Linked DNA regions of Homo sapiens. The protein of the gene in region 1 interacts with the protein of each later gene in a biochemical or structural test. Each region holds a gene or a part of one and is shown on either strand. Other genes may lie near its edges.

Evidence for each region. Proteins that work in one complex are often made in the same cells at the same time.
Region 2: the proteins of KAT8 (region 1) and MSL3 form a complex in vitro, tested with the Homo sapiens proteins (one study listed by BioGRID).

What each region holds. Positions count from the first base shown.
Region 1 is NC_000016.10:31,127,593-31,131,340, forward strand, and holds part of KAT8 (histone acetyltransferase KAT8), read left to right. Parts: intron 1-457; coding exon 458-547; intron 548-2,424; coding exon 2,425-2,565; intron 2,566-2,674; coding exon 2,675-2,768; intron 2,769-2,863; coding exon 2,864-3,014; intron 3,015-3,153; coding exon 3,154-3,308; coding exon of another isoform or gene 3,309-3,400; exon of another isoform or gene 3,401-3,602; coding exon 3,603-3,667; 3' UTR 3,668-3,748.
Region 2 is NC_000023.11:11,761,093-11,764,840, reverse strand, and holds part of MSL3 (MSL complex subunit 3), read right to left. Parts: intron 3,342-3,748; coding exon 3,259-3,341; intron 2,712-3,258; coding exon 2,589-2,711; intron 2,005-2,588; coding exon 1,844-2,004; intron 1,062-1,843; coding exon 903-1,061; intron 1-902. UniProt on the Homo sapiens protein: Non-catalytic component of the MSL histone acetyltransferase complex, a multiprotein complex that mediates the majority of histone H4 acetylation at 'Lys-16' (H4K16ac), an epigenetic mark that prevents chromatin compaction.

The DNA of each region.
Region 1 (3,748 bases):
AACTCACCCCCTTCAGGTCTTTTGCCAAGGCCAGCTCCATCCCAGGAAGCACACATAGCCCCTGGCAGTGGGACCTTAAGTGTGGATGAAATTGGGGGCTGTCAGGAAGGGGCGCTCTCATCACTGACACAGTGGGCTGCTTCCCGAAGTGTGGAATCTGAAGCGAATAGGTGTGGTTTAGGGAAGCCATTGTCATGGACGGGTCCCTCCAGAGCCAGGCCCACAGAGACTCAAAACCCCACCGTGCTGTGTGATGTTTGGATCTCTGTGCCTGGGCCTTGGTCTGTAAAAGCAGGATCACTTTCCTAAGGCTGCTGGGAGGATTACTCGATGTAGGTGAAGTGTTGAGGGGGGAAACAGAGAGGCAGAGACTTGCTCCAAAGCATGCAGTGGTGGGTTGGGTGCCTCCTAGCAGAGAACATATGGGCAGCGAACCTGTTCTCTTGTCCCCGACCAGGGTCAGTGCCAGTGGCGGCAGCCCCCCGGGAAAGAGATCTACCGCAAGAGCAACATCTCCGTGTACGAAGTTGATGGCAAAGACCATAAGGTGAGTGGGTGGCCAGGGGTTGGGAGAGGCCGGGGAGGCCCTGGGCACCTCCCAGATGATCCTCATCACCACCAAAGGGGAGGGGGCAGCCTTAGCTGAGCCTCTATGGGCAGAATGCCTCTGAGGGGCCGGGCACTGCAGCTCACACCTGTAATCCTAGCACTTTTGGAGGCTGAGGTGGGCAGATTGCCTGAGCTCAGGAGTTTGAGAGCAGCCTGGGTAACATGACGAAACTCCTCGACTAAAAATACAAAAAATTAGCTGGCGTGGTGGTGCGCACCTGTAATCCCAGCTACTCGGGAGGCTGAGGCACAAGAATTGCTTGAACCTGGGAGGCAGAGGTTGCAGTGAGCTGAGATTGTGCCACTGTACTCCAGCCTGGTCGTCAGATTGAGAATCTGTCTCAAAAAAAAAAAAGAAGGCCTCTGAGGGCCTCCTAGCCTGGCACTAGGCCTGTAGTTGGTGCATAGGAAACACAGGGCCTTGTGGTGGCCCCAAGACTCTTCTGCTGGTGGGGTTAGGTTCAAACTTGGGTTGTTCTGGAACCCAGAGGAGATTTTCTTGCCTGAGGCTGCTTTTAGAAGTGCTCTCTCCTTCCGTTGGAAAGAAAGGTGTTTGTTTTTGCCTGGGAGGGGACTGCTTTGTGTGAAATTTCCTCCTGAGAGAGCTCTGTGGCTTTCAAGGTTTGAGTTCCTTGTTCCTGGCCCCGAATGACTTCAGCAGGGCAGGTTGGGGCCTTTGGGACCTGCCTAGCTGTTGTAGAGAACTTGGCCTTTGCCTTATCAGTCTGGGAGGGTCTGGCCAAGTGTACTGGTTTCCCGCAGATGGGCCATACAGCACAGGACAGAGAGGGCAGGCTTCAGGGTGGCTCATGTTGCCTTGTCACTTCCTCACTGACCACAGACAAGTTACTTAACATGGTTTGTTCCTGTTTCCTTGTCCATAAGACGGGAGTCATAATATTTAATATTTACCTAGTTGTGTTGTTAGTGGAATAAATGAGACAGCAAATGTCAAGTGTTTAGTGCAGTGCTTAGCACTAGTATGTGCTTAATAAACACGGGCCTTGTTATTATCGGTGACCTCTTGGGGCTTGATTAGCCTTGGACTCGGAGAATACGCAGGCTGAGCCCAGCCCTTGCCCCTGCTCTGCCTTCCTGAGCATGGCTGTGTGGAATAGCAGAAGGGCCCCCGCTGGAGATGTGGGGGTGCTTTCCAACTGCGCTCTGCCAGCTTTGAGGCTCTGGGCAAGCACTTCCACTCTGGGAGCTTCAGCTTCCTCCTGAGTAAGATGGGCCTGGCAGTGCTGGGCTCGCACAGCTGCCGGGTTGGATGAGAGAGTGGCTGTGGTGTCATAAACCAGGGAGCCCCTTAGTGTGTGCCGTGAAGCCAAACTCGGTCCCATTGTCCCCCTCCTGGAGTGCAGCCAAGTGGACAGACAGGGCTCGAGGTTCCTCCATTCAGCAGACGTTTACCAGGCACCCAGCTTCATACTTAGACTCGTGCTAGGCGCTGGGGACACAGCCATGAACAGGACGGTCTAAATTCCTGCCTCGGAGCCTCAGTTTCACGAGCTGAAACAGAGTTAATGTCTGTGAAGACTGAAGCAGATCCTGCATGGAAGGCACCCAGCTCGTATTTGGCACTCAGAAGGGGTGGCCGGGCTTCATCCAGCTCCACTGGCACCTCCGAAGTGCTGTTGCTCTCTCATTTCCAGTTCCCTGTTCGTCAGAGGCTGACCGAAGACTCCTTCCAGTGTGAAATCCTTCTGGCCTGGCGAGGCGCCCACTTCGCGTGGGCTGGTGCCGGCCGCTGGAACCAGCTGGGTGGGGCCTGTGCCTGCCCCCTGAGCCTGTCTCCCCCCTCCTCAACCCTAGATTTACTGTCAGAACCTGTGTCTGCTGGCCAAGCTTTTCCTGGACCATAAGACACTGTACTTTGACGTGGAGCCGTTCGTCTTTTACATCCTGACTGAGGTGGACCGGCAGGGGGCCCACATTGTTGGCTACTTCTCCAAGGTGCTGGGTCTGGAAACTCGGGGTGGGGAGGGTGGGGAGGGCGAAGGTGGGCATGAACAGAGAGTGGGGCAGAGCCTCCCCAGCGGCCCTGAGCACCTGCCTCCTGCAGGAGAAGGAGTCCCCGGATGGAAACAATGTGGCCTGCATCCTGACCTTGCCCCCCTACCAACGCCGCGGCTACGGGAAGTTCCTCATCGCTTTCAGTGAGTGGTTCCTGGCCTGTCTGGGAGGGGGAGACCTGTGGGGCAGGGGTGCCAGGGCAGGCTGGATCCTAAGTTCCTCTTTCTACTGCTGCCAGGTTATGAGCTCTCCAAGCTGGAGAGCACAGTCGGCTCCCCGGAGAAGCCACTGTCTGACCTGGGCAAGCTCAGCTACCGCAGCTACTGGTCCTGGGTGCTGCTAGAGATCCTGCGGGACTTCCGGGGCACACTGTCCATCAAGGACCTCAGGTGAGGGGGCCTCCCGGGCCCTGGGGGCAGGACTTGCCCTGAGATGGGCCACGATCCTGCTTCCTCATACCCTGTCACCATCCTGGCCAGATCCCACAAGGGCACCAGGTCTGGCATTTGCTCTCATCCCTTTTTGCAGCCAGATGACCAGTATCACCCAAAATGACATCATCAGTACCCTGCAATCCCTCAATATGGTCAAGTACTGGAAGGGCCAGCACGTGATCTGTGTCACACCCAAGCTGGTGGAGGAGCACCTCAAAAGTGCCCAGTATAAGAAACCACCCATCACAGGTGGGTGGGGGGCTGCTGTGTGTCGGGGGCGGTGGGGGAGTGTCAGTATATGGACTGGTAGGAGTCAAGGCCTCCTTATTGCTGTCACATGATCCCAAACCAGTCAGACCAGCTCCCAGGATGGAGCCCGGGGCAGGCCTCTCATTCCTGGGCTTCCCTACCCCTCCCCAGCACAGCCTGCCCTTTTGTTCTCACCTGGAGGAGGTGAAACTGGCCTGAGCCCAGAGGAGGGCAGCCAGGTGTGAGCTGGCCTGGCCCAGGCCCAGCCCTGCCTCCCGCCCCTTCTCCCCACAGTGGACTCCGTCTGCCTCAAGTGGGCACCCCCCAAGCACAAGCAAGTCAAGCTCTCCAAGAAGTGAGCAGCCTGGCCCCTGCTGTCGGACCTGAGCCTCCTGGCTCCCAGCCTGTAAATATGTATAGACCTGTTTTGTCATTTTTTT
Region 2 (3,748 bases), on another chromosome or scaffold:
AGAAGCTACCAAAGGAAGGATGGCTGAGAGGAGATGGCGGCCAGGCGGAAAGAGAAGCTGGGGAGCTGACAGCCATGAAGCAGAGGGAGAAAGGGAGGGCAGGGCAAGGTGGCCGAGAAAAAGGGCAGCACACTGCAAGTGGGAGGTTATCAGTTCACGTGCAGGCAAAGTTTTGCAGCACAGCAGTAGATGAAGGCAGATAATAAGTGGTTAACAGAGGAGACAGATGAGTGGAAATCATGAGAACAGACCACTCTCTCAGGAAGAGAGGGAAGAGGGAGCGAGCACAATACCTTATAGAGATTAAGGGAAAGACTTTAGGTTGCAGGATCCCCCTCCCTGCCCCCTCAAAAAAGAACAGAGCATGCTCGGTAACTGAGGGAGGAAAAGTGGTGACATCGCAGAGCAAGAAGAGAAGTAACTTTTACTGAAGGCCAAAGTTTGCAGGCCCTGTGTGAACATTCCCATTTAATACTACTAGCTAGGCCTGCCTTCCGTCCATCCCACACCTGCAAAAGAAGGAGGCTCCTAAGAAACCTCTGCAACTAACACAAACAGCCAGTGAGGGGACTCAATTCAAACCTGCCCCTTCCACCCTCCCCGGCCTGTGCTCTCTTCACCCCACCCACTACCGTCTTCCCCAAAATGGGAGAGCTGCTCATCATCCCACCTAAGTTCTCTATGCTGGGGTCTTCACTTGGTAAAATCTGCCAGAGCCATATGAAAGTGAATGATGACTTAGCTTACCCAGGAAAAAAGAAAACCACCAGGACACACACTTTTCATTTCCTTCCCTCCTCCAAACATGTTGGCCCACACCATCAGATTGAACTCTTCAAAACAAGGATCTGATCATTGTACTGCTGACATGTGAGGGTGAAAGTGCAGGCTATATAACTTACCTGTTAGTGCTTGTGGCACTTTCCTTAATTGGAAGAAAAAATTTAGACGAAGTCACCTTTTTATACTGAGCTTGTTCATATGGATAGAGTAAAACCAACGGGAGAGTGTAATCAAAGGTTATTCTTAATCCATCCACCATCTCCTTACAAAGGTCAACACTGGGAGGATTAAAAAGAAGAGATTAGAGACACAAGTAAGAGGTACTTTCCAAATGTTCACAATGAAGTTGCCGATTTTTAATAGGGCAGTTTTAAATCTAATCATTATATACTACACCTACATACACACAAAATGAAATGGATTTGTAGCTACTGTCAAGATTACATAGGAAAACATAAAGTGCAGAAAATACAGCAGTCACTTTAACTTACCCCATTAAACACAAATAAATATGTTTGAGGCCACACGAGGTGTCCAGCAGCCTGTGCTGCAAAAGTGGACAGGTGGACACACCCCTATCACTGCAAGCTGAAACGGGTTGACCCTAGTGAATCCCTAACCCTTGCTTTAACTCCAACACTCCACCTTTCTGCCTCTCATCTAGCTGGGTCATGTGTACCAGGCAGGATACAAGGAAGCTTTCTCTGACTGGAATGAAAACCTGTTTGTAAACAAGCTTTGAGAAATCCTCACTGCCCATTCTGGTGCTTCTCAAGGAAAGTTCTCGCCCTAAACAGTATCACTGAAAAAACTGTCTCAGTGCTGAGGCAGTGCACTTTCAATGCATCCATGTAAGATGTGTAAATAGTTATTGAAGTACTGAAGATTTCACAAAAGTGACAAGGTTTTAATATTAGATGATTCAATGAATTATCAATAAATTATTAAATATTAAATGAATTCAAAATAACGGAATAGAGACAAGTGTCACCTGTTCTAAATGGAAGCCACCTCTCTAATACAGAGAGAACCACAAAACACCAAACATGCCAGTACTCACTTCTTTTCTGCTGGGATATAATGCACGTTCATGTTGGCATGTGGCATAACGTGATGGTGACGAGGCCTCTCATTGGCTGAAAAGGCTGCATTGATAGCAAAATGCTTCACATAGGATTCCAAAATCGTTATGATGTTGGTCTGGCATGGAAGTTTCACTAACTGTTAACAAAAACATAGACATCTGATGTATGCATCCTAATGTAACAAACCACATATTCCAAGAAACACTGGTCATGTCTGTATCATTTTTTAACTCAAAAATAAACCAAAGCCAATTCTGTTTGAATAGAACTTCTTAAATATGTTCGCAATCTCTTTGATCTTTTTTTCTCTACTGATCATAACCTTATGTAGATTACAATATTACTTTTTTGAATAGATGTAAGCAGTGATTCTTAATCTCAGTGATCTGTGAGAACAACCTGGGGAACTTCTTCAAGTATACCTGCAGTTGGACTCCACCACAGATCAATTAATTCTTAATTTCTGGGCTGAAGCACAAGCAGCAGCATTCTGGAAAGCTCCCAACACAACCCTAATGGGCAGCCAGAGCTGTGTGAGTTTCAATTTTTATCAGCTGCACAGCACCACTGGCAGAGAACTTTAAAACCTGACTCAATACAAAGCTGAAAAATATAAATTTCGTTCCACCAAGATTCGCTATTGCTTACGTCTATGATTGCAAACTATGGCAAAATGAAAATGCCAAACAAATTAATGTTTTATACATTCTCCCTACATACCCGTTTCCTCCTGTTAATGTAGTAACAATCATCCTCCAGCTGCTTCTTCAGAACTTCAGGGATTTCTATAGTTATTGTTCTTTCTTCCATTTCCCTTCTTGTTTGAAGCTCTGGTTCTTCTTTCTGCAATATCAAAATTCCATTTTTAACTATTTAAAACAGTAGAAGAGTCAATATCCAAGGAAGGCCTGCTATGAAACAAACCCAGCTAATCCTCAACAATCATAGTATGCCACGTGTTCTAATTAAAAGTATGTTAAAGGCCAAAAGTTAACTTGTTTGGGGGCACTAAACACAATGCAAATATGTATTTCATTTCTTTCCCATTTCAGTTTACCACTCGGATTTATATTAACTTTGGATGCAGGCAGAAGACATCACAGTCTGTAGGCTCCATTAAAAAATTAATCATTATAAAACAAATAATTTGACTGGAAAGAAAGATAACTATAATTTGTGGAAACATTTTAGGGGCATAAAGAGCCACTGAGAGACTCATACGGCGACTATAAATAAGGGTTGTTTTTCTTTAAATGTCAAATAAAAATTTACATTATTGGTTTAAAAGATGTATCTTTAGAAAACAATTCACAACTGGAGTATTTCACTGTGAATTTTTACCACTAAAATATATAACAAAGAGAAAGTTTTTACAATAAAAACTTTATACCACTTCAGTCTTTTCTTCAATATCACTTTCTTCACTTATTTCTTCATCCTTGTTTTCACTACAGTCAGAGGAACTGCTTAATGCTAGGTGAAACAAAAGCATCCGGTAAACTCGCATTTTATACTTCACCAACCCTTATGTCTACAGATCTTCACGTGTAGTGTGGGTGCTACTGGAAATAATAAACTGCAATTCCATGTATTTTTAAATGCCAAACACAAATACTGTATCTTTCACAATAGAAATTTATTTTGACAACCAATTTCAATGGATGCAAAAATCACACTAGCTAATGATCGGAAAGTGTATTGTCAGTTAGGATCCTACAGTTTCCTGTTGCATTCATAAATGGGACCAAGGCCTGGGAGGTGCCAAAAAGAGAACAGATCCCATGAGAACACACCCATGAGGGGTTTGTACAAAGATGCTGGCCGAGAGGGCAGTAGTCACAAGCATGACTCTGCTAACGTTCTATTACTGATTTACTGAC